Homo sapiens: one gene and its partners. The protein of the gene in region 2 interacts with the protein of the main gene of each other region in a pairwise test. Each region holds a gene or a part of one and is shown on either strand. Other genes may lie near its edges. The genes, in order: NCR3LG1, C3orf52, TMPRSS2 and MRGPRX3.

The links.
Region 1: the proteins of C3orf52 (region 2) and NCR3LG1 interact in binary tests that used the Homo sapiens proteins (3 or more experiments, as listed by UniProt).
Region 3: the proteins of C3orf52 (region 2) and TMPRSS2 interact in binary tests that used the Homo sapiens proteins (3 or more experiments, as listed by UniProt).
Region 4: the proteins of C3orf52 (region 2) and MRGPRX3 interact in binary tests that used the Homo sapiens proteins (3 or more experiments, as listed by UniProt).

The regions. Positions count from the first base shown.
Region 1 is NC_000011.10:17,347,705-17,355,180, reverse strand, and holds the start of NCR3LG1 (natural cytotoxicity triggering receptor 3 ligand 1 precursor), read right to left. Parts: upstream 3,382-7,476; 5' UTR 3,212-3,381; coding exon 3,142-3,211; exon of another isoform or gene 2,498-3,141; intron 1,717-2,497; exon of another isoform or gene 1,209-1,716; intron 1-1,208. Other genes in the region: NUCB2 (nucleobindin-2), read right to left, coding at 5,817-5,836. UniProt on the Homo sapiens protein: Triggers NCR3-dependent natural killer cell activation.
Region 2 is NC_000003.12:112,103,381-112,110,804, reverse strand, and holds part of C3orf52 (TPA-induced transmembrane protein), read right to left. Parts: intron 1,263-7,424; coding exon 1,192-1,262; intron 1-1,191. UniProt on the Homo sapiens protein: Has a role in LIPH-mediated synthesis of 2-acyl lysophosphatidic acid (LPA). LPA is a bioactive lipid mediator involved in different biological processes, and necessary to promote hair formation and growth.
Region 3 is NC_000021.9:41,469,906-41,477,329, forward strand, and holds part of TMPRSS2 (transmembrane protease serine 2), read right to left. Parts: intron 6,716-7,424; coding exon 6,672-6,715; intron 3,592-6,671; coding exon 3,420-3,591; intron 2,077-3,419; coding exon 1,901-2,076; intron 839-1,900; coding exon 743-838; intron 1-742. UniProt on the Homo sapiens protein: Plasma membrane-anchored serine protease that cleaves at arginine residues. Participates in proteolytic cascades of relevance for the normal physiologic function of the prostate.
Region 4 is NC_000011.10:18,128,336-18,135,632, reverse strand, and holds the start of MRGPRX3 (mas-related G-protein coupled receptor member X3), read right to left. Parts: upstream 3,063-7,297; 5' UTR 2,894-3,062; intron 1-2,893. UniProt on the Homo sapiens protein: Orphan receptor. Probably involved in the function of nociceptive neurons. May regulate nociceptor function and/or development, including the sensation or modulation of pain. Potently activated by enkephalins.

The DNA of each region.
Region 1 (7,476 bases), on a different chromosome or scaffold from region 2:
AAGCAATCCTCTCATTGCCTCCTCAAGTATTGGGATTACAGGTATGAGCCACTGCGACTGGCTAGATGTTTTCCATTTTAGAACAGTAGGTTGCTAGCAAGTTTACGCTTATACCTATTCCAACAAAAAGTGCAAGGACAGTTCAAAATATTACATTTGCTATTTCAAAGAAGAGTACAACTCCAAAGAAGTCAGACTCATTACTAACAATGCAGAGCTAGACATCTATATTTAGATAAATGTCAGAAACCGAATTCCCCTTGTTGCCATCAAACATGTCCTTTCATTAGTCACATCCAACATATCTAAATAAAGTTTTCAAAATTAATGTTAACAAAAATGTATCCAAAAACCTGCCAACTTACTCAAAGATTTGTGCAAGTCTATTTTTTAAAATAATACATTAGGGAAACGCGGTGACAAGCTTTCTGTTCTATGTATCAAAGCAAAAACAGACTTGACCTACAAAATGAAGATAGGGTCAACTGTAACCAAAAAAACAGTATGCTTCCCCCTGGTGGCCAACCAAGAAATGGAGAAACCAAGGATATGAAACAGCCAGGCCACCTAGTTGTATTGTCACTCTTAAAAACGAAAAGTGACTACCAAAAAAAAAAAAAAAAAAAAAAAAAAAAGAAGAAGAATTGGGGGGTCGGAGGGAGAAGGGAAAATATCAAAAACACTAACATGTGCTTAAAAGGAATACAAACCTGAGTGCCAGACTACATAAATTTAGAAGATTTAAATCAACAAATCAAAATTTAGAAGGCAAATTTGGGAAACCTCGTCTATTTTCAGAGCGCCCAAGCGCTCACCCAGGACCTCCATGTATTTTCATTTAAAGGTACAGAGTGTAGTACCTTAACAGCTTAACAGCATTCGCCTTTTTCAAGGACTAGATCCTTGGAATTTTCTGCAGTCTTGTTTCCAAGGAAAAGCATTTATGCATTTATCTTTTCAAATCAACTAGTGGTATAACCTACATAGAGAACCTCCAGTTCTAGAGCTCTCCAACTAGGGAGGACTGTTAACTACAGCTTTACAAATTGCTCTTTTCAACTTCATTTCTGAAATAAAACCTAACGTTCTTTAAAACATTTTCTATATCAACAACCTTTAAAGACATTCTCATACAAAGACGGGCTAGAATCTCTTGCATTAAAATCTGACGAATTCCTTTGTATGACTGGATTTTTTTTTTCTTGTACCACTTTAAATTTGCTTCCACGCAGAATAGCAGCCAGGCAAACAGATGCTCCATCCTAAGGTGTAGGAATTTCTTGTAGGCGGAAATGATTTGTTAGGCGAAAGCTTCCGAAACGGTTTTCCATTTCACAGTCTCTTCCGGTGCCAAAGTCCAGCACCAACGCCTGGTTCTGGGGTCCGACCCTCATGCAGCCGCCGCCGCGCTCCTCGTGGCTGGACGAGCCGGAACTAGCTTCCTCCAGGAGCTGCTGCTGCTGCTGCCGTCACTGGGCGCCGCCGCACAGCCAAACGGCGTTCCTCCCTCTCCGCTTCCCTGAGAACTCGCGGCCCTTCTCCACCACCACCAGCATCCGCGGGGACCGAGACCGGACGAAAGTGGCGGGGACCCAAGGCCCCTGAGGAGGGGGCGCCGGGCCCGGGAGGGGGCGCGGGACGGGCATGGGACCGGGTGGGCGCGGCGGCAGCCCACTGGCGCCACTTCGAGCTCGAGGAGACCCAGACTGATAGAGCGCGGAGGCGTTTCCAGACCGCAGCGACAGGCGTTTCCAGACCGCAGTGACAGGCGTTTCAAGTCCGCAGCGCGGAGACAAGCGCAATTTTGGCTTTCCACTTCACCGCCCACACTTCACTCGGAACTGTCTTATTTTCACATTGCTTATTGCAAATGTATAGAAATACTATTCACTCGTTTTTATTTCCACTTCCCTCTCCCATCGGGCAGCCATTCTAAGGTGTTTAACATGTAATTTTTGTTCTCTTTAAGGCTGTATCTTCTGTTTCTCAAACTGTGGAAATGGTATTGCATTGTATGTCCACTGTTTACTTGGCTCTACGCCTTCAACATCCGTTCACGCTGCTCGGCAAGCAGCAAGGGCGTGGTGTGAAGCTGCCGCCAAGGTCTCCACGGTGAGGTCCACACGCGGCTCTCCTCCACCTGCAGTGACTCGGGGCGCCCAGAGCGCGCCTCCGGGATTCCTACATTCCACCTCCACCACCCGGCACCCAGGAGCGTATTTTGGCCAGCCTAGTAAGGGTCAAGCAGCATCTTGTTGTTTAATTGCCATTCTTCTAGTTAGAAATGAGTTTAAATATCTCTACATACGCGTTTCAGCCTTTTAGTCTCCTGTTTAAGTTAACGCAGAACACGCCCATACGAGTTCCCAAAAAAGCAAGAGAACGTTTGAAGGTCACCACAAGATCAAAACACTCCCCTCCCTCTCTCAGTAAAGACCTAACTTAGCAAAGCCAGGAGGACCCACTGATATGCGGATGAATGATTTTTCCAATTTACCGATTCCCTGATTTTCTTCTCTCCTCCGGCCCCTCGGATGATGCGAGAGAGGCGCCAAATACCGAGGCACCAAACGCGCGACATCCAAGGAAGCACCGTTTCCGCTCTCACAGGTGTCGACCCTGCACAGGGCAGGCCTTCAATGTAAACCTGTTGCATCGGGGACTCCGCTTCTCACAAAGGAGGGACGCTTGAAAATAGAGCCCCCAGGCCGGGCGCGGGGGCTCACGCCTGTAATCCCCGCACTTTGGGAGGCCGAGGCGGCTGGATCACTAGGTCAAGGAGACCATCTTGGCTAACACTGTGAAACCCCGTCTCTACTAAAAGTACAAAAAATTAGCCGGGCATGGTGGCGGGCGCCTGTGGTCCCAGCTACTCGGGAGTCTGAGGCAGGAGAATGGCGTGAACCTGGGAGGCGGAGCTTGCAGTGAGCCGAGATCGCGCCACTTCACTCCAGCCTGGGAGACAGAGCGAGACTCCGTCTCAAAAAAAAAAAAAAAAAAAAAGGAGAAGAAATAGAAAAGAAAATAGAGCTCTCAGCCCCCAGGAAGTTGAGGTCCCCTGGCGGGATGCTAGGGAGCCGACCCGCGAGGACCCTCTGGCGCCAGGAGCCCCCGCCCCAGCCCACCCCAGCCGCCCCCTACCTTCGGTCGTCAGCGCCCACAGCAGAATCAGGAGCGCCGCGCACGTGGAGGCGGCAGCCCTCCACGTCATCGCCGCGGCTGCTGTTGTGTAATTTTTTTCGCCGAGTGGGAGCAGGCGGCCCGGTAGAAACCAAGGGCAGGGGGAGACCTCTGTTGCGTAAAGAGTTGACGGAGACACAGCCGGGATTTCCAGCCGGCGCTTTTGCACATCCCACTTCTTCAGATCCCTTCGGCAACTGCGAAGTCGCCTGGATTTCCCAGGTTCGCACTGCAGGAAGCCAGGCGCGTGACCAGCCCCACCCGCGCCGCACTTTAGCCCGGGGGCGGGCACCGGCCGGGGAATCCTCCCTCGCCTCCGCCCGCGGCACGAGGTTGCGCGGTTACAGCCCCGGTGCCTCTCGCGAGCGGCTCTGCGGTCCAGGACTCGGGGCATCCTCTGGGTTCGCTTAGTAAATTGAGACCGGGATCCAAGTGGCCCGGGGCGCTGCTCTAAGGAAGATGCTGACCGCAGTCGGTGATTGCGAGAGCAGGTGCACGCGTCCAGAGCGACATCTTACCGTTGGCGCGATAAACTTACATTACTTTAAAAACCAAAAACAACAAAAATTTAGCATTAAGTCGAAAGGCAAATTAAATCCCCAGGACAATTCAGTTAAACGCCTGAAGGTGGCCCTTAATTTCCCATTTCTACTAATCAAGAAGTGGCTTGCGACCTCCTGAAGCAAACCCAAATATTCTCATTCGGTGATTAAGTTTTACCACCTCTACACCAGTTTTTAAATCAATTTAACCGCAAAGTTCAGAACCCAAGTGGCACAGTAAATGTGTGTGCATTTATAACGCAGAACCTGCATTCTTTCCCCAGCAACCTGCATTCCATTTGTCTCATTGACCCTACTGCATTTTTCCTTCGCATCATTAAAAAGGATGTAATGTACAGAAAAGCACAGACAGACCTAAACTCCAATGCCAACCATGCCATCTGCTGATTATAAGACAGTGGGTAAGTGACCTCATATCCCCAGCCTGTTCACATGTCTCTAAAACTGAGAGAGTAAAAGCTTCCTTTCCAGGGTTAGAGACACTGTCACTGACTAAGCAAATAGTCACATTCTCACTTATCTGCAGAACAGAGTGCATACAGAAAGAGCTCAGAAGTGAAAGATGCGCAGAGTGCCCACAGTGGCAGCAACTAGCTGAGGGGCCTTCAGATCGCAGCCTTCCGGACCACCGTTATAACAGGTAGAGATATGCAAGGTTAAGTCCAGCTATTGAATTTTTAAAACCTAAATTACACCTCTTCTCAACCTCTGCCTCCTCCAAGGAGCCTTACCTGAGGAGACATCCTTGTCTGGTATTAGTGACATCATTAAATAACATTCCCAATGGAGGTATATGACGACTTCTTATACATGCCCAGAATAGTGATTCACAAAGTTGTGACACATACACATCACCCTGTAGAAATTATCAAATTACTCTTTTGGTAATTTTTACTGTTTTGGTAATTTTTTTGTACCCTTTTTACTCTAAAGGGTAAAACCGGCAGGTTTCTCTATTTATATTTCATTAGAATGAAAAGTCATTACCTGTGTTTTCGTTTTTACCAATATCATGTCTATTTGAACATCTTTTTTTTTTTTTTTTTTTTTTTTTTTTTTTTGGTGAGACAGAGTCTCGTTCTGTTGCCCAGGCTGGAGTGCAGTGGCGTGATCTCAGCTCACTGCAACCTCTGCCTCCCAGGTTCAAGAGATTATTGTGCCTCAGCTTCATCCTCCCAAGTAGCTGGGATTGCAGGTGCCTGCCACCACACCCAGCTAATTTTTGTATTTTTAGTAGAGACAGAGTTTCACCATGTTGGCCAGGCTGGTCTTGAACTCCTGACCTCAAGTGATCCGCCCACCTCGGCCTCCCAAAGTGCTGGGATCACAGGCGTGAGCCACCACACCCGGCCTGAACATGTCTTTTAATACTTTTGCCAACTTTCCATTCAACCCTAAAGCACACAGCAGATACCTCACGATGCTTCTCAAACAAAATAAGCATATATTCTCAGGAATTATTTATGGAAAACTCTGACTTTCTGTGTTCTTTATTGGTGCACAGCATTGAGACACGGTATTCAAATGCTGGTTGACACTGAGGTCATTTTTATGACACATTGCATCCAACTTGCTGTTGGAATATCACATACAATTTTGGAACCATATTGTAACACATATTGAAAATATCCAACAAGTAATCAGAATGGTAAATAAGGGACATTCACTCAAAGACATGTATCCAGGGACAGTATGGCAGAGACTGCTATTTGTCAACCAATATCTGTTTTCCCCTTTTTCCTTGAAAAAGGCCTCCAATATTTTCCTGGGCACAGGGATCAATAAAAGACTGCATTTCCTAATCATTCTGGAACTAAATGTGGCCATATGACCAAGTTCTGGCCAAAGTAATATAAATGGAAATGTTCTGTGTGACTTCTGGGAAATGTCCTTAAAGAGAAGGAAATGATCTTCTTTTCCCCTTCCTTCTTTCTGACAGCAGGATAGCAGATGTAATGCCTAGAGCTTGAGGAGACATCTTGCACCACAGTGTGGAAACCATGCACTAGGACAAAGGGACAGCAAAAGAGAAGGGTTCTGGGTCCCTGATGACTCGTGAAACCTCTACCAGCTTTAGAAGGACACCTCTGGACCTGTGGAACATAAGAAATAAAGTCAGTAAGCTACTCTTATTTAAAATGTTCTCATTTTCAGCAGAACCTAATCCTAATCACTACAAATGAGTAAAGGAGCTGAGCCCATTTTGTTTGGAGTAGCCTGGGGGTTTAAGAAATGGTACCAGTCTTGTAAGTCTCTGAAAAGCTAACACCTGTGTATGTGAGTACACATGTTAGGTGATGTTCTTGAAGGCAAAAGCAAGTTGGAGAGAGATTTTGGCTCAGTATAAGAAAAGCTTTCTGCTGGGCGCGGTGGCTCACACCTGTAATCCCAGCACTTTGGGAGGCCGAGGCGGGTGGATCACCTGAGGTCAGGAGTTCGAGACCAGCCTGGCCAACATGGTGAAACCCTGTCTCTACTAAAAATACAAAACTTAGCCAGGTGTGGTGGCAGACGCCTGTAATCCCAGCTACTCGGGAGGCTGAAGCAGGAGAATCACTTGAACCCGGGAAGCGGAGGTTGCAGTGAGCCGAGATCAATGCCGTTGCACTCCAGCCTGAGTGACAAGTGTAAGACTCTGTCTCAAAAAAAAAAAGGAAAGGAAAGCTTTTCTATTAAAGGAATGGGACATTTCAAGTTGCCCCTCAGCAACAATTTATTGAACTCTGCCAGGCACAATCTAGGAGTGACGAATTCAGCGATGGCTAAAGCACAGTCCTTAGCTTCAAAAAATCTGTCTAGGCCAGGTGTAGTGGCTTATGCCTGTAATCCCAGCACTTTGGGAAGCCAAGACAGGAGGATCACTTGAGCTCAGGAGTTTGGAATCAGCTTAGGCAACATAGTGAGGCCCCATCTCCACAAAAAAAATCAAGATATTAGCTGGGTGTGGTGGTGTCACCTATATTCCCAGCTATTTGAGAGGCTGAGGTGGGAGGGAGGATGGCTCAAGGCCAGGAGGTCATGGCTGCAGTGAGCCATGATTGCACCACTGCACTCCAGCCTGGGTGACAGAGTGAGACTCTGTCTCCAAAAAAAAAAAAAAAAAAAAAAAAAAAAAAAACACAAAAACAAACAAAAAACACCTCATTCTAGACCATTGTTGTTCCAAGTAGCTGTGCTGAAGGACTCTTTAAAAGTGTCCAACCTGGCCAGGCATGGTGGCTCACCCACTTTGGGAGGCAGAGGCAGGAGGACTGCTTGAGGGCAACAGTTCAAGACCAACTGGCCAACATAGCAAGATCCTGTCTCTATTATTTTTTCTTAATTCTAAAAAATAAAAGTAAAAATAAAAAATAAGTGTCCAACCCACGAAGAACTGTCATTTTGTGAAATAAAAATGAATTACTAGAGAAATGAAATAAAAAGACATAAAAATCCAAGCCCTCAATTTTTATTCTTAGATTCAAAAGACATAAAATTATTTTTGAATTGCTATAAAAGTTTCCAACAGCATGAGTAATGTTGGTTGGCCTTCTCACCATTAGGTAACAGCCAGGCATAGACCAGCACCAGTCACAGACCACACTGTGAGAAAGACCAGTCTAGACAAATGCAGATTGAGAGCCATTCTATAAAACAAATGACCTGTACTCTCAAAAAATGTAAATGTCATGAAAGACAAAATACAACTGAGGAGCTATTCCAGATCAAAGGAAATTAAAGAGACCTTACAACA
Region 2 (7,424 bases):
GGTCTGCTAATATTAGGGTTTGGAGAACTTATAGTTTGAAGGGGGAATCTCAATATAATACAACTTTTGATGGTCATATTCCAGAGACATCTCAGGCATAATGGATAATGAAGCTTTGATATAAATTTTAAGTCATCTCCAATAGTCCCAATGATGTAAAAGGATAATAAATGGACTCTACACACATACACCCTGATGCCTACATCTCAAGAACATTAAAGATGAGGAGGAAATTTAAAAAATAAAAAATACATATGGGTGTGTATATCCTATGTGTGTGTAGTATTTGTGGTGCCTATGGTAGATACATGAACAGAAGTAATTACACTCAACTCTTGACAGCTATTACCTCCATGGAAGGGAATGGCATTAGTTATTGGTGGTGGCAGTGGAGAAGAAAGGAGGCAGAAGGGAGACTTTTCCTGTGCATACCTCTTTATGTCTTCTTTTTTTTATTTTTATTTATTTTTATTTTTTTGACAGAGTCTCACTCTGTCACTCAGGCTGGAGTGCAGTGGCGCAATCTCGGCTCACTGCAACCTCCCCTCCCGAATTCAAGAGATTCTCCTGCCTCAGCCTCCTGAGTAGCTGGGATTAGAGGCACCCACCAACACACCTGGCTAATTTTTGTATTTTTAGTTGAGACAGGGTTTCACCACGTTGGCCAGGCTAGTCTTGAACTCCTGACCTCAAGTGATCTGCCCGCCTTGGCCTCGCAAAGTGCTGGGATTACAGGCGTGAGCTACCACGCCCGGCCCCTCTTTACATCTTTAATACTAAACAAGGAGAATGTACTCCTGTATTACTTGTGCTCCTCAAAAGCAAATGCCTATACATGTATCACTCGCATCACAGCACGACCTGAGATCTATTTCTACTTCTACCCTTAGCTTATTTGAGCATTCATTGTTAAACAGAAATGGTTTACCTGGGACTGGCTTTTCCCCTCTTCTGTGTGACCCTGGTTGAATTATACCATTAATCTGGGCTTCCTTTTTCTCATTTGTAAAATAAGGGAGTTGAGCCTGTTGGTGTAAAAGACCTTCCCAGCACTGACATTCTGTGATTCTATTACAGGTTCCCTTCATGCTCTGAGGCTCTGGGAATCCCTGCTAGGTAAATGACGAAGGGTGGGGTGGGGGGATCTCTTTCCAGAGAAAGAGAGCAAAATGTAATGTTCCACACTCTTACCTGAAGTCCACTATTTCAACTGAAGTAAAATAACGACCCAGAGAGGGCGATGTACTGTACACATCTGTGAGCTAAACAAACAGAAGCAAATTAAACCACACACATTACCGACAGATCATATTACACATCACCTGACAAAGCAAAACTGCTTCTAAGGCAGAGGAGATTCCACTCCAGCCTGGAATCAACGTTATCTGGAAGCTCTGGATCAAGAATTGAGCCCACCATAAATCAAAACTCAAGTTAATGCTACTTCAAAAGAACTCCATTTATAAGGACCAAATGACTCAGTTTCTCTCAGAAGTTGCACTGGCACCCTGTGGCCTTAGTGGTGAGAATATCAGCAGCTGGAGCCCACACAGGCCTCACAGACCATAGGAAGGAGAGAAGAGAAGACCCCAAAATGGCTGCTGGACAGCAGCAGCACAGACCACTTAGCACCTGGGACATTGCTTAGCCCAGGGCTTCTTTCTCCCTTCTCCAGAGCTTCAGTGTAAAGACAAACAGCCATGCTAAGCCATGGGTCTAGCACATCCCCTGGACAAAGAGACAAAGAGGGGAACTGCAAAAATATGGAGGCTTTATTTTATGCATGAAATATTGCAAGCATCATAAAAAATAATGACACCTGTGTTTCCACTACCTAGCTTTCATGTCTTCATATTTGCTATATTGGGTTCAGCCCTTTAATTTAAGAAACAAAATAAAGCTAAAGTGACTCCTACATACTATTCAGTTCCTCCTCTCTCTCTTTCTTAATACTAACCATCATTCTGAAGCTGGCATGCATCCTTTCCTTGCATATTTTTACAAATTACTACTTATTTATGTAATCATAACAAAATATAATTTGTGTTTTTATTCAAATAAAAGGCACCATATTCTACATAATCTTCTAAAACTTGCCTTTTTTCACTCAAAATTACATTTAAGATTTACCCATAAAGTAAATCTCAATGAAAGGCATTCACCTAACTCCTGCACAGATTCCTTTAAATGAGTATACCAGCCTATCCATTCCTCTGATGATGATCACATGCACTATTCTCAATTTTCCCCATCACAACTTATGCTGAAGCAATCATCCTTAATGTCTCCATGCATCTCTTCTTGGACATGCGGGAGTTTCCAATGGGCATATGCCAAGAAAAGGAATTGTTGGGTTTAAGGGTAGGTGCATCTCCAACTTCACAAAATTGTTCTCCCTTTCCCACCCCTCCCAGCAATGTATAAATATCCATTTCCCACATCCTTACCAGCACTTAGTGTTACCAAACTTAAATTTTTACCACTCCGAGGAGTATAAAATAGTGCTTCACATTGTTTTAATTTGTACTGCCTCGCTTACTAGTGAGGTTGAACATCTTTTCATGTTTATTAACTCTTTGGGACTTTTCATCTCTGAATTTCTCACTCATTTCCTTTCCTTCTCTTGGCTTATCTGTCTTTTTCTTATCTATCTGAAGTGGTTAGTTTTATATTCTGGATACTAGTTGTTGATATTATGTTACAAGTATCTTTTCCCAGGCATTGAGTAGTTGTGTTTCAGATATCTGAATCCTAAACTAGTAGTACTAGGAACATGTGCCATCCCCAGCTACAGCCATTATGGCTTAATGACCTATTACTTTATTCAATAACAAGCAGTCGAACATACAAAAAACAGCAGTGCCCTATGGGGAGCTTACCCTGTTTCCCCTCAACTCCAAATGGAATGTCAAGGACGCTGCACTTCCACAATACACTCCCATTTAACTCAACATGTACAACCCATATCTCAAAGAGAACAAAAGATGAGAGTGCCTGCTATTTCTGCTCTTCTAATCTTGTCACTACTGTTGTGATCTTTATAAAAACCTGGCAAAACAGGCATTAATATATCTCCCCTTTTTACTGGAAAATTAAACAGCACTCCATTCCATGAGATGAAGAAAACCTGTCCCAGGTCACTGTGCTAGTAAAAGGAGAAGCCAAAATTCAATCCTACATGTTATGAACACTAAAAACCAGCTTCTTCCCATCTGACCACACTACCCAGTGAAGAAGAAATTGATATATATACAGTGAAGGAAAGTGTCTCCTGAATATCAAGGAGGAAAGAAGCTTAAAGTGACAAAAACTTTCGGAGAAAATGACTGAGTCATTGTACAGCTCTTAAGCCCCAATGCACAGGATGTTGCCGATAGGCTGACAGTCATTTAGAAAACTCGGGAACTAGGAAAGCAGCTTTCACGGGGATGCTGTGATGGAGAGGAGGATGAGGATGCTGCAGAGGAGAATCTTTTCAAGCACTAATGTCAAGCACTCATGTCTTTCTCTTCCTTTTGGATTGAGCTTCCTATGGCAAAGGTGATATTTATCCTTCCTTCCAGTCTTCTCTGCTTCCTCCTTCCCTTCTTTCCTTTATTAATCTTTAGGGCCCAGCACAGTGTTTTGCACATAACAGGCTTTCAGCAAATTTTTAAGTTAAAATTTTAAGGTAACATATGGAGTGGTCGACTAAATCATTTTTAGTGTTCACTCGAAGATTCTTTTTGATCATGCTCCTCTGCTGTACTTAGGACATATTTACATTTGGGGAGCTGTTAGTCACACTGTCCACTTTGGGCCCAAAGAAGTGAAATAGGGTGGTTCCTCAACCCTTAGTCTTGTGTCTCCCACACAATGTCTATGAGGCTTGGTGCAAACTGAGCAAGGAGCTCAGCGAATTGATTAGCTGAGTCTGATGCAGTGGCTAATTAGAGACCAGCTTCCAGAATAAGGCAGGTGCCATCATTAACTCCTAACCCATGCACAGGGTGTGGTAGTCACACAGGCTGGCTTAAGCAGAGTAATGGCCCCAACCCTGAGAGGAAAACACTGTGGCAGTGACACATGGCAGGGCCTGTGTTTAGAAAAGTCAAGGGAAAGGGCATAAAGTTCCAATACTGTGATATAATAACAATATGTATACTGTTTAGTCTCTGCCCCAGTTCCTGGCACAGAATTCCTAAAACCCTTGTTACTTCCTGAGTGACAGGGGCGCCGGGTACATCTTTTACTCTAACATTTGGTCTTTACTCCAGCTCCTGACACAGACCTGCTCCTAAATCTCTTGCAGTTTCCTGGGTTATAGGAGTGTCTTTATTTCTGATGAGGCAACTCTTGGCGGGCTGCTGGATGGGGGCTGATCATCAGAAAGACCAAGCCGCAGCTAGAAGCTTGGAACTTTCAGCCAGTGTGGTGGAGTGGGATGGTGCATGCGTGTAGTCCCAGCTACTCGGGAGACTGAGCAGGGAGAATCGCTTGAGGCCAGGAGCTTGATATCAGCCTAGGCAATATAGTGAAAACTGTCTGGAGAAAAAAAAAAGAAGAAGAAGAAATCTGAAGCTTTTGGCCCCACCTCCACCCCCATCCTCCAGAGGGGAGAGAGGCTGGAAAGCAAGCTAATAATCCACCATGCCTATGTGAGGAAATCTCCATAAAAATCCCTAAAAGACAGAGTCTGGAGAGCTCCCAGGTGGCTGAACACATTTACAAGGGAGAGTGGCACACCTGAAAGGACATGGATGCCCACATTCTGTCCCACGTGTCCGCCCTATGTACCTTTTTATCTGGCTTTTGATATCCTCTATTTTCTACAGTGTGCCCATAAATGTGATGCTTCCCTGAGCTCTGTGAGCCATTCTAGCAAATGACCAAACCCAAGGTGGGGGTTTTGGAGACCTCCAATTTGCAGCTGGTTGGTCAGAAGCACAAGTGACAACCTAGACTTGTAACTGAACTGGCATCTTTTTTTTTTTTTTTTTTTGGAGACTAAGTCTCGCTCTGTTGCCCAGGCTGGAGTGCAGTGGCACGGTCTCGGCTCACTGCAAGCTCTGCCTGCCGGGTTCACACCATTCGCCTGCCTCAGCCTCCCGTAACTGGCATCTTAAATGAGGGAAGTTTTGTGGGGCTGAACCCTTAAACTATGGGGTCTGCACTAACTCCAGGCAGATCATGTCAGAATTGAACTGGATTGCAAGACACCCAGCTGGTGGCAGATAATTGGTTGGTGTGGAAAACACACACACACACACACACACACACACACACGGCCAAAGAAGTGTTCTGCATTGAATGTGGGTATAGAGAAAAAAATAATTTTTCCCCCACAAATACCCACTTCCATTTACCTTTTATATCCAGAAACTTCTGAAACTTGACCTAATGGAAGAAAGGAGTTATTGACCTGACAATAAGACAGCAATACCTTTAGGTGCTAATTTTTGTTCCTGAGCATATTTGGTTGACGAATGAAGGGCAGGAATCTGTCACCTCACTATGCCTTACTTTGATCATTTGTAAATAAGATAATTCTTTTAAAATGTTTTTCAAGTTATTTTTATGTAATCTCATTTGCACCTGAGATACACAGAGAAAGTGCACTGGTTTCCATTTATCAGCGAAGAAACTGGCTCAAAGAAATCTGTGGACCCACCACAGGCATCAATGTCAGTCCCTGTTCTTTTGCCACTACCTAGTGATGAGCTCAAAATACCCGCAGAATTTCCTCATATCTGACTCTGTGCAAGATATATGGTTGTAAAATGAAAAATGAACATTCATTTACCTTTGAAATAGACAGTCTACTATGCAACAGGTGACACATGTGGATGCTGACTCATCTTATTTCTGCTCAGCAAATGCAAAAACCTCTCCATTAAAAAAGCAGCCAAGAGGAAAGTAGCAAGAAGCGTCTCACTCAGCAACTTGCCCCAGGAAGCAGGTGGAAGGAAAGGAGAAAAGGAGGTGAAGATAAGACATAAATGAAGAGACTTCAAGGACTTGATGGAAAAGGTGGTGGGGGTGAGGGATAAAAGACTACAAATTGGGCACAGTGTACACTGCTCGGGTAATGGGTGCACCAAAATCTCAGAAATCACCACCAAAGAACTTATTCATGTAACCAAATACCACCTGGTCCCCCAAAACCTACGGAAATAAAAAATAAAAATAAATAAATAAATTTAAACAATCTAAAAAAAATTTAAAGATATAAATGAAGAGAAGGAGAAAGAGAAATCTGGAGTAATCATCACAGGATACCAACTCCTGTGATAAAAGAAGCAATGAAATCTCATGCGTGGGTACCCAGAAACTGATTCTGATGTGACCTGGATGGAATCGCCTCTTCAGGAGCTTTTGTAGGAATCAAATCGAATGGAAGTTAGATAAACAGCACTCACTCCATTCAACCTAGCAATGGCAGAGAAGAATTTAATGGAGGGCAGCCTGCTCTTGCCTAGATTTTCTTATCAAAATTTCTGGGTCTGGCTGTGAACCACCTTGTCTTTGACAGGATGATCAGGATGCCCCACCCAACGGTCCTAGTCTGGCTGCAGAGCTTCCATCTTCCACAGAGGGTTCATTCTCCTGGGTTTCTCATCCCATGACTGACACCGCCATCCATCTGCCCAATCACTCAACTGGAGCTTGGAGTCATGCTCTCCTCACCACCACCCAATCAGTCATGGACTCTTATTGAGTGAGAATACCTCTTAAATCTCACGCAAATCTTCCTTATTTTCCCGACACTGCCCTAGTTCAAGTCTCCCTCATTTCTCACCTGGACTATTGTAACACCTTCTAACTGATCTCTTCCTCCTGGCTTTCTCCACCAAAACACAGAAAGGCTAAAAGGAAAAATCTAACTGTGTCAATCTGCTGATTAAAATATTTTGGTGCCTTATTGAAGAGTGGGAAAGCCTTCATGACCTGACGCCTGCCTTCCTTTTTAGCCTTATCTCTGCCAGCTGTCACCACAAAGCATGGGAAGGCCACAGTACACTACTTTGCAGATCCTTTAATGTCCCATGCTTTTTTATTTAGAACATTCCTACCTCATTTCAAAACTCATCCTGAGCATCACTTCACTTAACAGGCCTTTCATGCCTTCATCTTCACCTGAGGTAGCTCAGATGCCCCTCCTTTGCCACTGTACAACACACTAGAACATACCACACTATTATAAAACGATCTTTTTAGTCACTTCCTGTACTTGGACTGTGAGACCCCTGAAGGCACAGACAATGTGGCCCTGGCACTTGGCATGCTGTCTAGCACATCACAGACCCTCAATGAATACTATAGGTTGAATTAAATGTAGGACCTAAGGGAGTAAAAAGAACAGTGTCCTCCAGCATTTATGCAGCTGGAGGCCAGGAATCTTCCCTCTGGCTTTGCACTACAGTAAAGATATTTACTTATTTTTT
Region 3 (7,424 bases), on a different chromosome or scaffold from region 2:
GGTCTTTTGCCCAGCCTGTGGCTCTACTGTAGTAAGTTTCTGCTGATGAGGAGCCAGGATGCCCCCCACTACCTTCCCTGACGCTCCCCAGAAATCACCCAACCTTTGTACTTTTCCCCTTGTTTGAAAGGATTTGTTGTCTGTATGGCCTAGACGCTTTTGAGAAGGATATAAACAATATGTAAAATGAACCTTTGTGCCTGCCACTAAGCACTTCCAACCCTCCATAAAAATGAAGCAGCCAGGCTCCCTTCATTTGAAAGACTGTCAGAGAGAAATGCAGATTGCAAAGGAAGTGGGTGGAGAGAGCCTCTCTCTGTGGTTATCAGGGCAGAGGACAGGCTTAGATGTGGCCACCATGGGTCCAGGATGCCCGTCCTCACCAAGCCCCCTGTCACTCAGCCACGCAGGCCTTGGTGGGATCTCCAGGGCAGCTCTAAACTCACAATGAGTGCAACACAGGAGATCCTGCACCTCTAAACTCGTATGGCCCAGATACTTCAAAAGCCATTCCACATGCTGCTCTGTGTGATCACGATAAGAACACAGTGTATTAGGTAGGCTGGGCAGGATTTCTCCCACTTAGCAGATGGAGAAACTGAGGCACAAGGACTGGGGGAATCAACCAAAGTCATCCAGTCATTGAGTAGTAGAACTGGGATTAAAACCTGGACCTCCCACTTCCGAACCCAATGCTCCATCTGTGGGCCCTGCAGTCCTGTGTGCCCAGGAGCAGCCTCACCTTTCTCCTCGGTGGCCCCCCACCCGGAAATCCAGCAGAGCTGTTCTGGCTGCAGCATCATGCCTGGGTTGGGCAGACACACTGGTTTCACTAGGTCTGTTTCAAGAAGAGAAAACACAGTGAGCCAGGCGGGTATCACCTATGTCTCCACCTGGCCTTCCCACATGCAGGCTGCTGGGCCTGGCACCCTGGCCACCCTGCCCAGAGGACCCTGCATCCCAACAAGTCCCACATTCTCACTTTCTCCCCCTGCCAGACCTCTCCTTCTGGCAGGCAAGACGTTATGCTACTTATAAGTAGAATTATTTGCTAGCTCTGCTTATAAGAGGAATTATTTGCTAGCTCTGCTTCCAAAATTACATATCTCCAGGTGATCAAGACGGGAAAGACACACAGGAGGCAACAGCCAAAAAGCCGATGGAGTCAATGGAGTCAGCTTTCGCCCCAGAGGCACCACGCCATTGCTCAGGCATTCGCTCTTCTATATGTGAACCATTTCCCAATGTGAATACAGACATGCTGTAGGGAGGGCTGAGGTTTTGCTTCTTCTGTATCCACATGGGGCTAGAACATTCCAGACCCTTGGATGGACCAGAGTGGGACCGAATAAGAGGCTAAGAGAAAGCATGTTTGTCCTGAATTAAGCAACTTGGTTTTAGAATGTATCTTTAAAAATCAAGGATCTTTACACATTTTAGGCCAGTAGTTCTCAACTGGAAGTGACTTTGCCTCAAAGCGGATGTTTGGCAATGTCAGCAGGCAACACTGGTTGTCACAGCTTGGTAGCTACTGGCCTCCAGTGGGTAGAGGCTGGGGACGCTGTTAAACATCCTACAAGGCACAAGAGAGCCCTACAACAGAGAACCACCCAGATGTCAAGGGTGCTGCAGTGGGAAAGCCCTGTTCTAGCCTTTTCCATGCCTGGCTTGAATCACCACCACTCAGTACAGTACAGAACAGATGTGGTGGCTGCTGCCTCCCCCAAAATGCGGCAGGTGCTCTTAGCCTCTGTGAGCCTCTCCCATTGGCCACCCGCTGCACGCTACCCTCGCTCAACGCAAATGCCTCCCTTCCATTTGGCATAGCACAAGTGTCATTTCCAATCAACATCTCTTTAAGATTCTGCCAACCTGCTTGCCAAGCCTGAGCCACACGTACCGTTGAAAGTCAGAGGCTTCTGCAGCTTCATCAGCGCAATGTCATTGTTCTTGGTCTTGGAGTCATAATTTGGATGAGAAATCACTTTTTCTACTTGGTATCCGGCTCCATAGAACATGAAAGATTGTCTCAAAATCCCCGCAAATGCCGTCCAATGCCATGGATTGTTAAGAGGTCTGGGAGAGAAGAAGGACTCAGTATCTCAGAGCCATAAACACAGAGCTCTCAGTGGATGAACTTCCAACGTCAGAAGCTGGAGGCAAGACACCCAGAGGCAGGATGGTTCACCAAAAACCACACAGGGAGATAGTGGAAGAGGTGCTCGGTCTCCCCTTCTCCCCCACACTCCCCCAACCCCGACTCCCTGCCTCAGCCCCCCACATCATCCTTCTTTCTGGCTCTTGCATCACCTTCAAGGAATCTGCAGCACCCACAATGGGCCGACATCCCTCCCTGGGGTTTCAAGGCCATTTCTAGCAGGACTGGCCCTTATTTTCCTTTGTACGCCAAAGCATTTCCTGGCACATGGTAGGTGCTTAATAAATGGATACTAATGAACAGACTTGTCCGATATCAATCAAACCATTTCCTTTATCCAAGAGTTTCCCTCTTAAGAGAATCCCAGCTCCTAGTGGGCCCAGAGCACCCAGTGGTGTGAAGAGGGGGAGAGAAGGGAGCACCCTTGGGTAACAGCCCTTGAGAGAAACCCAGTTCCTAGAGGGCCCAGAGCACCTGGGGGTGTGAAGAGGGGGAGAGAAGGGAGCACCCTTGGGTAACAGCCCTTGCTTCCTTGACCTTCATAACAGCCCGAGAGGAGAAGGGCATGCCCATCTTATAGTTGTACATGCCATGGATCAGAGACGTTGAGTGAATCGTCTAAGGGCACGCAGCAAGAGAGGGCTGGGCCAACAGTCAAACCCAGTTCAGCCTCTCTCTAAGGCAGAAAAATACATCCGCCAAGTGAGGCCTCCTCCAAAGCAGCATGTGACCAAAAGCACTATGTGTTTAAGGAAAAGGGGAGGGGGTGGTAGCGTCCATAAATGCTAATACTGTCACGGCTAGCCTCACCCCTACCTAACCCTCTGCATGAGCAATGCTGTGGCCAAGAACGCTTAACCCCAGGGACCTTCCAGCAGGGCAGCCTGAAGCCTGTCTGAGTGTGCCCTCTCCTGGGACTAGCGTCCCGGAGACAGGATACCTCAGGGGGCAGGGGCTTTGCTCAAGGGCAGGACAGAGCTCAGAGGACAGTGGCTGGAAGGAACGCTGGTCACGGCGACATCGTGGAGAATGTTCCACCTGCACCCTGTGCCCTGCGTGCAGGGGACACTCAGTGCATACAGCCATGCACTGCCTGGCATGAGCGCACTTGATGTCTCACAGCCCTAGGAAGCAGGTGCAATACTCTCCCCATTTAAACACAAGGATGCCGGGGCTGCAAGGGTTGAGACCTGCTCAAGGTCACAGGGTGGCTGTAGGCCAGCCCTGAGCCCCCACCCGGCCCGCGCCGCCCCTGGCATACTTTTCCACGCAGTGGGCGGCTGTCACGATCCACTCGGGGGTGATGATGGAGCCTCCGCACACGTGGACGTTCTGGACGTGCAGGCTGACCTGCCAGGGCCAGGCCCCCGGGAGCGCGCTCTCGCCGCCCACAATCCTGCTCTGGCGGCTTGAGTTCAAGTTGACCCCGCAGGCTGAGGATGACAAACAGGAGGCCAGTGGGGTGAGACCAGCAGAAGCCGCCCAGCCACCCAGCGCCCGCCCCTCCCAAGGGTCTCCCAGGCTGCAAGGACAGGGCAGGGGCACCACTGCTGGGGATGGACTTAGGGGGCTCCTGGGGGTCTCCTCTTGGGGAAGGGAGGATGCCCCTCCAGCCCACCCAGACCCAGGAAGCACCACTTCCCTGAACACTCCTGTGATCCCATGGGGTCTCCCGGGACCCAGGTGGGGGTGTTCTGGATAACAAGGCCCTGGGGACTCCTTGAGTCTTGGAGGGACTGACACCACTCAGGGACCCCAGATTCTCACACAAAGAAAAGGAAGATGGGAGGGGCAGGGCTGGAAGTGAGTGAGGGGGTGAGGAGACGAGGAGGTGAGTGAGAAGGTGAAGGGGTGAGTGAGGGAGTGAGTGAGGAGTGAGGAGGTGAGGGGGTGAGTGGGTAATTGAAAGGATGAGGGAGTAATTGAGGGGGTGAGGGGGTAATTGAGGGGGTGAGGGGATAAGTGAGGAGGTGAGGGGGTGAGTGAGGAGGTGAGAGGGGTGAGGGGGTGAGTGGGGGGTGAGGGGGTGAGTGTGGGGTGAGGGGGTGAGTGGGGGGTGAGGGGGTGAGTGGGGGGTGAGGAGGTAAGTGAGGAAGTAAGGGGGTGAGTGAGGGGGTGAGTGAAAAGGTGAGGGGGTGATTGACGAGGTGGGGGGGTGATTGACGAAGTGAGGGGGTAAGTGAGGGGATGAGCAAGGAGGTGAAAGGGTGAGTGAGGGGGTGAGGGCATGAGTGAGGAGGTGAGGGGGTGAGTGAGGAGGTGAGGGGGTGAGTGAGGAGGTGAGGGGGTGAGTGAGGGGGTGAGGGGGTGAGGGAGTGAGTGAGGGGGTGGGTGAGGAGGTGAGGGGGTGAGTGAGGAGGTGAGGGGGTGAGTGAGGGGGTGAGGGGGTGAGGGAGTGAGTGAGGGGGTGGGTGAGGAGGTGAGGGGGTGAGTGAGGAGGTGAGGGGGTGAGTGAGGAGGTGAGGGGGTGAGTGAGGAGGTGAGGGGATGAGTGAGGGGGTGAGGGGGTGAGGGGTGAGTGAGGGGGCGAGGGGGTGAGTGAGGGGGCGAGGGGGTGAGGGGTGAGTGAGGGGGTGAGGGGGTGAGGGGTGAGTGAGGGGGCGAGGGGGTGAGTGAGGAGGTGAGCGGGTGAGTGAGGAGGTGAGGGGGTGAGTGAGGAGATGAGGGGGTGAGTGAGGGGGTGAGGGGGTGAGTGAGGGGGTGAGGGAGTGAGTGAGGGGGTGGGTGAGGGGTGGGTGAGGTGGTGAGTGAGGGGGTGAAGGGGTGAGTGAGGGGGTGAGTGAGGGGGTGAAGGGGTGAGTGAGGGGGTGAGGGGGTGGGTGAGGGGTGGGTGAGGGGGTGAGTGAGGGGGTGAGGGGGTGAGTGAGGGGATGAGGGAGTGAGTGAGGGGGTGGGTGAGGGGTGGGTGAGGTGGTGAGTGAGGGGGTGAGGGGTGAGTGAGGGGGGTGAGGGGTAAGGAGGTGAGGGGGTGGGTGAGGGGTGGGTGAGGTGGTGGGTGAGGGGGTGAAGGGGTGAGTGAGGGGGTGAGTGAGGGGATGAGGGAGTAATTCAGAGGGTGAAGGGGTGAGTGAGGGAGTGAAGGCATGATTGAGGGGGTGAAGGGGTGAGTGAGGGGGTGACTGAGGGGTGAAGGTGTGAGTGAGGAGGTGAGTGAGGGGGTGAAGGCATGAGTGAGGGGGTGAATGGGTGAGAGAGGGGGTGAGTGAGGGGTGAAGGGATGAGTGAGGGGGTAAGTAAGGGGTTGAGGGGGTGAGGGGGTGAGTGAGGAGGTGAAGGTGTGAGTGAGGGCGTGAGGGGGTGAGGGAGTGAGGGATTAGTGAGGGGGTGAGGGGTTGAGTGAGGAGGTGAGCAGGTGGGTGAGTGGATGAAGGGGTGAGTGAGGGGGTGCAGGGGTGAGTGAGGGGGTGAGGGGTGAATGAGGGGTTGAGTAGGGGGTGAGTGAGGAGGTGAGGTGGTGAGTGAGGGGGTGAAGGGTGAGTGAGGGGGTGAGGAGGTGAGTGAGGAGGTGACGGGGTGGGGTGAGGGAGGGATGAGGGGGAGAGTGAGGAGGTGAGGAGGTGAGTGAGGGTTGAGGGAGTGAGGAGGTGAGTGAGGGTTGAGGGAGTGAGGGGGTGAGTGAGGGGGCGAGGGGGTGGGTGGTGAATGAGAGGTTGAGGGGGTGAGTAGGGGGTGAGTGAGGGGGTGAGGGGTGAGTGAGGTCTGCTGCCTTCCCTGCTTCCTGTGTGTGAGTGTCTTCTCCACCAGGAGATGAGTGCATGGGCAGAGGGCAGGGCGGGTGCCACGCACCCTTGGGGCTGTGCTGGACCCCCACTCAGGACCTAAAGAAGACCTGAGCCAGCCCTGCCGGGATGGGACGGTGTCAGCTCCTTCCACCTCTTCAAATGAAAAGCTGAGCTCAGGACCACGGCCCCACGACAGCACTGGGCCATCCCAGAGGAGAGGGACGGTGGCTTCCACATTTGCAAACAGTTTGGAAACTGTAAGCACTCTAAACACAGAGATGGGGACACCCAAGTCTAAGCCACCGTCCAAAATTCAGGAGAGAAGAGGCAAGAGCACTGTTGTTCTCTGGTCTTGTCCCTCCTCCCGGGTCCCACTGGCTGATGAGCACCTGGTGGCCACACGGTGGTGCTGGACCACAGCCCCGCAGATGCTCCAAGTCCACGTTAGGTGGCTGCCAGGGCTCACTAACGCCACCCCCCTTTGCTTTCTGGAGAAAGAGACCTGCCGGGCCTCCAGCTCATGGGTGGCATAAAGTGTAGGGCTTTGTCAGCTTCTTGAGCGTGCCTGATCTCAGGGGGTGTCCCTTGGACCCAAGGCTGAAGGTGTCTACAGGCCATGGAAATCTAAACCAGGAGCTCCTTGGAAAGAGCGAGACGCCGCTGGGCACATTCCAACCCGTGACCCCACCTTCTTCCCTCCCACGCCCCCAGAGACACAGGGAGTACTGTTCTGAAAGTAGAGAGCTTTTCCTAGTTAGAAGTATCAAAAGGGGGACTCCAGATGAACTTACCTATACAGCGTAAAGAAACCACTGCTTTTGAAGAACAGGCATCACTGCAAAAAGAACAGGGGAAATTCTGGTCACGATAGTGCGGAGTCACCTGCCTCTCACATGCTTAGAAATCAGTCATTTCTTCCGATGTTCCCTCTCCTGTCTTCTGAGACATAGAAGGGTCTGCTAGTTACAACTCCAATAAGGTAAGTAAATCCATATAGGGACAGTGGCAAAGACCAGACACTGAGCCAAGGTACGCGGCTCACATCCCCACAGTGTGACCTTGGGCAAGTTACTTAACCTCTCTTAAAATTGTACCAGCTCCTAGGACGGTTGTGAGGGTAAGTATACAATAATGCTAGTTTTGTTTTTCCTCTTGGAATTTAAAATCATCTTCTAATTTTTAAGGAAGCCATTTGGAAACCTCTGGGCTCCTATAACTGCTTTAAATTTGTAGTGTTGAAAGCAATATAACCAATAGTTTCCCTAGGATTAGAAGAAACGTAAGAGTTACTCATTTGGGAGTCAAACATCCCAGGTTATGGATGAAGAGGAAGTAACTGATGCATTTTGTCCTGCAGTGAATTTCCCAGGCTATGCTGAGAAGGGAAGACGCGGCCCCTGGCATGCAGAGCTGGCCCGCCCTGATAGCTGGGCCGTGTGCTCTGCGGAACCTGAATTATTTCACTGAGCGTCAATATCGGACTAGGCCCCTCCATGCCTGAGATGGGGCAAGACACAAGGAGCCTCCTCCGAAATGATGTCTGA
Region 4 (7,297 bases), on a different chromosome or scaffold from region 2:
ATGAAATAAGGGAAAAATAGAGGTGAGTGCGTGCCATTTAGGAACAAATTCAGGAGTTCTTTTTTGCCTATCAGAGGCCACGTTTGCTCTGGAATCCCAAGAATGCACATGGGCAGGAGCTCTCCAGGTGGAAAGAAGATGCATCCTCCTCTGGGAGTATAGAGGAGCATCAGGAGTGAGTGCATCCATCATGAGCTCTCTTAGGGAGACAAGCTGCCACAGCTCTGATTGGCCCAAAAAGGAAATGGGAGGAAAAGGAGAACCTCTGTTATCCACACTCAGAGCACTAAACTGTTTGTCCATCTATAGGTATGGTATGATATGTTTGTCTTCCTCATGAAACCCGAAGATCCGTAAGGAGTAAGTCATGCCTGTCTTTTTCACTGTGGTATCACCAACATTTAGCATGTTGTTTAACATGCTATGATGTTCTTTAAAGACTGTCTATGGTATTATCCTCATATAACATAAGATGAAGCTAAGGCCTAGAGAATTAAAGGGTTTTCCTGGTTCACAACATGAAGAGCAGGTCCAATACCAGCCCCTGGTCCCTGGAGTCCTGCACGAGACTCCAGTTCTGTTCTCTGCCCCACCATTTATTATTTCTGAGGAGTTCCTGAAAAATCTTGATGTGAGCACAGAATCAGAGACAGTCAGGGGCTGAAGAGACTGCTGGTTGCCCCAAGATTTCCTTTTTTGGTCACATAACCTTTCTGAGAATGTACAAGCAGCACAAGGACCCACATCCCAGTTTTCCTTGATGCTGGATGACATCCCATGAGCAGGTGCTGTTAAGTGGAAGAATCACAAAAGTGACAGAAGCAAGTCCTGGCTCATGGGATTAATAGAAGGAGCAAAGCCTCTCCTTCCCCTCGTCCTTTTTCCATAAGACTGGAATGCTAATGTCGCTGGGAACCATGTAGGATCACAAGGATGAGGGCAACTCTCTAGGAACTGGGGAGCAGCAATTTTTGGAATTCTGATGTATGATGCTTTGGAGCTTCTAGTTCAGATCTCGAAGAGTGTCATTTTTGTGTATTTACAGGGGATTCTTTCCAGAACCCCAGCACAGACCAAAATCTGCAGATGCTCAATTTCCTTATATGTGGTATTTGTATATACTCTATGCACTTTCTCCCAGATACATTAAATCATTTAAAGTTATTTAGAATAACTGACAAAATGCAAATGCTATATAAGTTCTTGTTATATTGTAGTTTTTCAGAAATAATGACAAAGAAATACAAGTTTGTACCTGTTCAGTACATACACAACTCCGCCACACCTTTATTTTTGGAAAAGTTTCCTCCTGTAGTTTGTTGAATCTGTAGATTCAGAACCTAGTGACCCAGAGGCACAACTATACTTTCTTGTTTAAGATATTTCTTCTTCATGTCTTTATTAGATCAGCCAAACTTATATTCTAAACAAAATACATATGTTCTTTTTAAAATTACATTTTATTTTCTATGCATTTTTAACAAATGCAAACATTTCTGCATAAAAGTGACAGTAGAGAAAGACAAGCCAAACATTAAAGTAGTCTGATAGAGCTGAAATGAGACAGGGATCAATCAGATAGAGAAAGCCCCAGGAATTAGGAGGATACAAGAAGGTGAGAGGGATAGTCTCATTTACCATGAGGATTTGCTTTCCATTCTTCTTTATCCTGTTTGACATCCCAAGAGAGTGGCTTCTATGTACCACATCAGTGGGATTCTTTTTATTTCTGGTTTCTGGTGGAATTGAGACACTGGGAGACACCAGCAGGAGACTGGAAGACAGCAGGAAAGCACCTTGGGATTTCCATCTCCTGGCTCTCTGTCTGTGTATTAGTTCATTCTCAAATTGCTAAAAAGAAATACCTGAGACTGGGAAATTTATGAAGGAAATGGGTTTAACTGGCTAATAGCTCTACAGACTGTACAAGAAGCATAGCAGCTTCTGCTTCTGGGGAGGCCTCAGGAAGCTTCCAATCCTGGTGAAAGGCAAAGGGGGAGCGAGGCGTCTCACATGGTGAGAGCAGGAGTAAGAGAGAGGGAGGAGGTGCTACACGCTTTTAAACAACTAGATTTCATGAGAACTCGTCAGTATCACAACAACAATACCAAAGGGGGATGGTGTTAAAACATTCATGCAAAACCATCCCCGTGATCTAATAATCATCTCCCACAAGGCCCTTCCTCCAACATTGGAAATTACAATCAACATGAGATTTTGGTGGGAACACAGATCCAAACTATATCAGCCTGTGTGGCTGTGCGTTGGCCACGCAGGGCTTCTCCACTTGCCTGCTCATGCTCTCCCACCCTTATGGCTACAGCTATGGCTATAGTGACAATGGTAACTGCTCCTTCCCTGTCCGTTTCAGCCTAGGGGAGGAAGTAGTGCTCCCCTATGTATTGCTGCTTAGGATCCTGACCCTTAACTCTGTGCATCTTTGTAAATACTTTCCTCATGAAACACTCCTTAATTATTGGGCCATCTATATCTTCCTTAGACCTTTCCAGATAGGCAAAGAAGAATAAATTTGAAAAGTAAGTGAAACAAAGAAACTGGCTCTATAGCAGTTCAACTCTGGGAAGAAATGCCTGCATGTCCCCTTGCTCGTTAAATGAATGTAAGAGGCAGCAGTCTCTCCATGAGGGCAGATTGAATGATTGGAATGAAGGAGGTGATATGGGGAGATAAATTAGAAGGGGGGACACCATTTAGAGCTCACACAGTTTGGGTTGACAGCACTCAGTTTCTGAAAGGAAGCTTCATGTCTCCTGTCTTTTCCTGAAACAAGCTCGTGACCCCCTGCATGTAGCACCAAGGTGGAAGCATAAGGACATGATCTTACAGCAAAAATCATAACTGACTGTGGAAGAAGAGAGTTCTTGGTACTTACCCTTATCGTTCCTTCTTTGTCCAGTGGTGAAGACCTCCCTTGTGCTAAAGGTAGAGAGCCTTTATGGGATTCAGTGACTTCAGAGGACTTTTCTGTGTTGCTTAATTCAGGAGATGCCTACAGGAGCTGAAATGAAAGCTGGTGAGCAATCCAGGCTTACGAAGATGCTGGACAGTCTTGTTATTTCCTGTATGAGGACTATGGGCAAATCAGAGGCCAGAGGTATTTGAGACACAAATCCTAACTGAGATGATTCTTGGCCTCTGTCCCATATCCAGTACATTTAAGCCTCTCCTATCACGTCCCATCTTGTTCAACTTCCTGTAAGTAATTGCTGTCCTGATTTTAAAAATCAATTATGGGCCTAGGCATCACATTAAGCAATGTGAACTATCATTATGAGGCTTTATATCCAAATGAAAAAGTAGATCATGGGACCATTCAAGGCTGACAATGGCCTGACACAATTTTTTGATGTTTTCTTTATCATAGTGGTGATATATTCATGTGTATACTTTCTTTCCAAATGCCAGAGAAGTGTATGCAAGGTGAAAATCTAGAGTCCCATTGTCCAGAGGCTACCACTTGCTACACTTTTCATTCTTACTTCATTATTATAAACTCTGAACAGTGAACTTTTTTAAATTCTGTGAAATTAAATCATTTATTATTATTATTTTTATTTCATTGGGATTTTGGGGAACAGGTGGTGTTTGCTTCCATGGATAAGTTCTTTAGTGGTAATTTCTGAGATTTTGGTGCACCCATCACCTGAGCAGTGTACACTGTACCCAATGTGTAGTCTTTTATCCCTCGCCTCTCTTCCATCCTTCCCCTCAAGTCCCCAGAGTTCATTATATCATTCTATGCCTTCGTGTCCTCACAGCTTAGTCCCCACTTGTAAGTGAGAACATATGATGTTTGGTTTTCCATTCCTGAGTTACCCCACTTAGAATAAGGGTCTCCAATTCCATCTAGATTGCTGTGAATGTCATCATTTTATTCTTTTTTATGGCTGAGTTGTATTCCATGGTATATAAATATATATATTTATACATATTTAATGGGATTGCTGGATCAAATGGTCGATCTACTTTTAGTTCCTTAAGAAATTTCCACACTGTTTTCCATAGTGGTTGCGCAAGTTTACATTCCCACCAGCAGTGTAAAAGTGTTCCTTTATCACCACAGACCCACCAACATCTATTATTTTTAGATTTTTAAATTATGACCATTCTTGCAGGAGTAAGGTGGTATCGCATTACAGTGTTGATTTACATTTCCCTAATCATTAGTGATGTTAAGCATTTTTTCCTGTTTGTTGGCCATTTGTATATCTTCTTTTGAGAATTGTCTATTCATGTCCTTAGCCCACTCTTTCATGGGATTGTTTGCTTTCTTCTTGCTGATTTGTTTGAGTTCCTTGTGGATTCCGGATATTAGTCCTTGGTCAGATGCTTAGTTTGTGAAGATTTTCTCTCACTCGGTGGGTTGTCTGTTTGCTCTGCTAATGATTGTTTTTGCTGCGCAAAAGCTTTTTAGTTTAATTAAGTCCTATCTATTTATTTTTGTTTTTGTTGCATTTACTTTTGGGTTCTTGGCCATGAAGTCTTTGCCTAAGTGAATGTCTAGAAGCATTTTTCTGATGTTATCTTCTAGAATTTTTATGGTTTTAGGTCTCAGATTTAAGTCTTTGATCCATCTTGTATCAATTTTTGTATTAAGTGAGAGACAAGGATCCAGTTTCATTCTTCCACATGTGGCTTGCCAATAATCTCAGCACCATTTGTTAACTAGAATGTCTTTTCCCCACTTTATGTTTTTGTTTGCTTTGTCAAAAATCAGTTGGCTATAATTATTTGGCTTTATTTCTGGATTCTCTCTTCTTTTCCATTGGTCTATGTGCCTAGTTTTATGTCAGTGCCATGATGTTTTGGTGATTATAGCCTTGTAGTATAGTTTGAAGATGGGTAATGTGATGCCTCCAGATTTGTTCTTTTTGCTAAGTCTTGCTTTGGCTATGCGGGTTTTTTTTTTTTTTTTGGTTGTTGTTCCATATGAATTTTAGAATTGTTTTTTTCTAGTTCTGTGAAGAATGATGATGATATTTTGGTGGGAATTGCATTGAACTTGTAGATTGCTTTTGGCAATATGGTCATTTTCACAATATTGATTCTACCCATCCATGAGCATGGGATGTGTTTCCACTTGTTTGTGTCATCTATGATGTCAGCTGTGTTTTGTAGTTTTCCTTGTAGAGGTCCTTCACCTCCTTGGGTAAGAATATTCTTAAGTATTTTTTTACAGCTATTGTAAAAGTGTTTGAGTTCTTGATTTGATTCTCAGCTTGGTCACTGTTGGTGTATAGCAGTGCTACTGATTTGTGTACATTTAGTTTGTATCCTGAAACTTTACTGAATTTATGTATCAGTTCTAGGAGCTTTCTGGATGAGTCTTTAGGGTTTTCTAGGTATACAATCATATCATCAGTGAACAGGGACAGTTTGACTTCCTCTTTATTGATTTGGGTGCCCTTGATTTCTTTCTCTTGTCTGATTGCTCTGGCTAAAACTTCCACTACTATGTTGAATAGAAGTGGTGAAAGTAGCATCCTTGTCTTGTTCCAGTTCTCAGGGACAATGTTTTCAACTTTTCCCCATTCAGTATAATGTTTGCTGTGGGTCCGTCATATATGGCTTTTATTACATTAAGGTATGTCCTTTCTATGTCGATTTTGCTGAAGGTTTTAATCATAAAGAAATGTTAGATTTTGTCAAATGCTTTTTCAGCATCTATTGAGATGATCATGTGATTTTTGTTTTTAATTCTGTTTATGTGATGTATCACATTTATTGACTTGTGTATGTTAACCTATCCTGCACCCCTGGTATGAAACCCACTTGACAATGGTGGATTATCTTCTTGATATGCTGTTGGATTGGGTTAGCTAGTATTTTGTTGGGGATTTCTGCATGTATATTCATCAGTGGTACTGGTCTATAGTTTTCTTTTTTGTATATCCTTTCCTGGTTTTGGTATTAAAGTGACATTGGCTTCATACAATGCTTTAGGCAGGATTCCCTCTTTCTTTATGGAATAGCTTCAGTAGGATTGATACCAATTTTTCTTTGAATATCTGATAGAATTCAGCTGTGAATACATCTGGTCTTGTACTTTTTGTTGGCAATTTAAAAAAAAATTTTATTTCAATCTCATTCCTTTTTATTGGTCTGTTCAGACTTTCTATTTCTCCCTAGTTTAATCTAGGAGGTTTGTGTGTTTCCAGGAATTTATGCATAACCTCCAGGTTTTCTGGTTTGTGCATGTAAAGGTGATCACAATAGTCTTGAAAGATCTTTTGTATTTCTATAGCATTGGTTGTAATATCTCTTGTTTCATTCCTAATTGAGCTTATTTGAATCTTCTCTGTTCTTTTCTTGGTTAACCTTGCTAATGGTGTATCAATTTTGTTTAAGTTTTCAAAGAACCAGCTTTTTGTTTCATTTATCTTTTGTTTGTTTGCTTCAGTTTCAATTAGTTCTGCTCTGATCGTTTTTATTTATTTTCTTCTGCTGGGTTGGGTTTAGTTTGTTCTTGCTTCTCTAGTTCCTTGAGATGTGACTTCAGATTGTCTATTTGTGCTCTTTCAGACATTTTGATGTATGCATTTAATACAATGAACTTTCCTCTTAGCACCACTTTTGCTGTATTTCAGAGGTTTTGATAGGTTGTGTCACTATTATCATTCAGTTTATAGAATTTTTAAATTTCTATCTTGATTTCATTGTTGATTGAATAATAATTCAGGAGGGGGGTGGAGCCAAGATGGCCAAATAGGAACAGCTCCAGTCTACAGCTCCCAGCGTGAGCAACACAGAATCTGACGAATGATTTCTGCATTTCCAAGTGAGGTACTGGGTTTATCTCACTGGGGATTGTCGGACAGTGGGTGCAGGACAGTGGGTGCAGCGCACCAAGTGTGAGCCGAAGCAGGGCGAGACATCACCTCACCCGGGAAGTGCAAGGGGTCAGGGAATTCCCTTTCCTAGCCAAGAAAAGGAGTGACAGACGGCACCTGGAAAATCGGGTCACTCCCATCCTAATACTGCGCTTTCCCAACGGTCTTAGCAAACGGCACACCAGGAGATTGTATCCTGTGCCTGGCTCGGAGGGTCCTATGCCCATGGAGCCTCGCTCATTGCTAGCACAGTAGTCTGAGATCAAACTGCAAGGTGGCAGTGAGGCTAGGGGAGGGGTGCCCGCCATTGCTGAGGCTTGAGTAGGCAAACAAAGCAGCTGGGAAGCTCCAACTGGGTGAAGCCCACTGCAGCTCAAGGAGGCCTGCCTGCCTCTGTAAACTCCACCTCTGGGGGCAGGCCATAGCCAAACAAAAGGCAGCAGAAA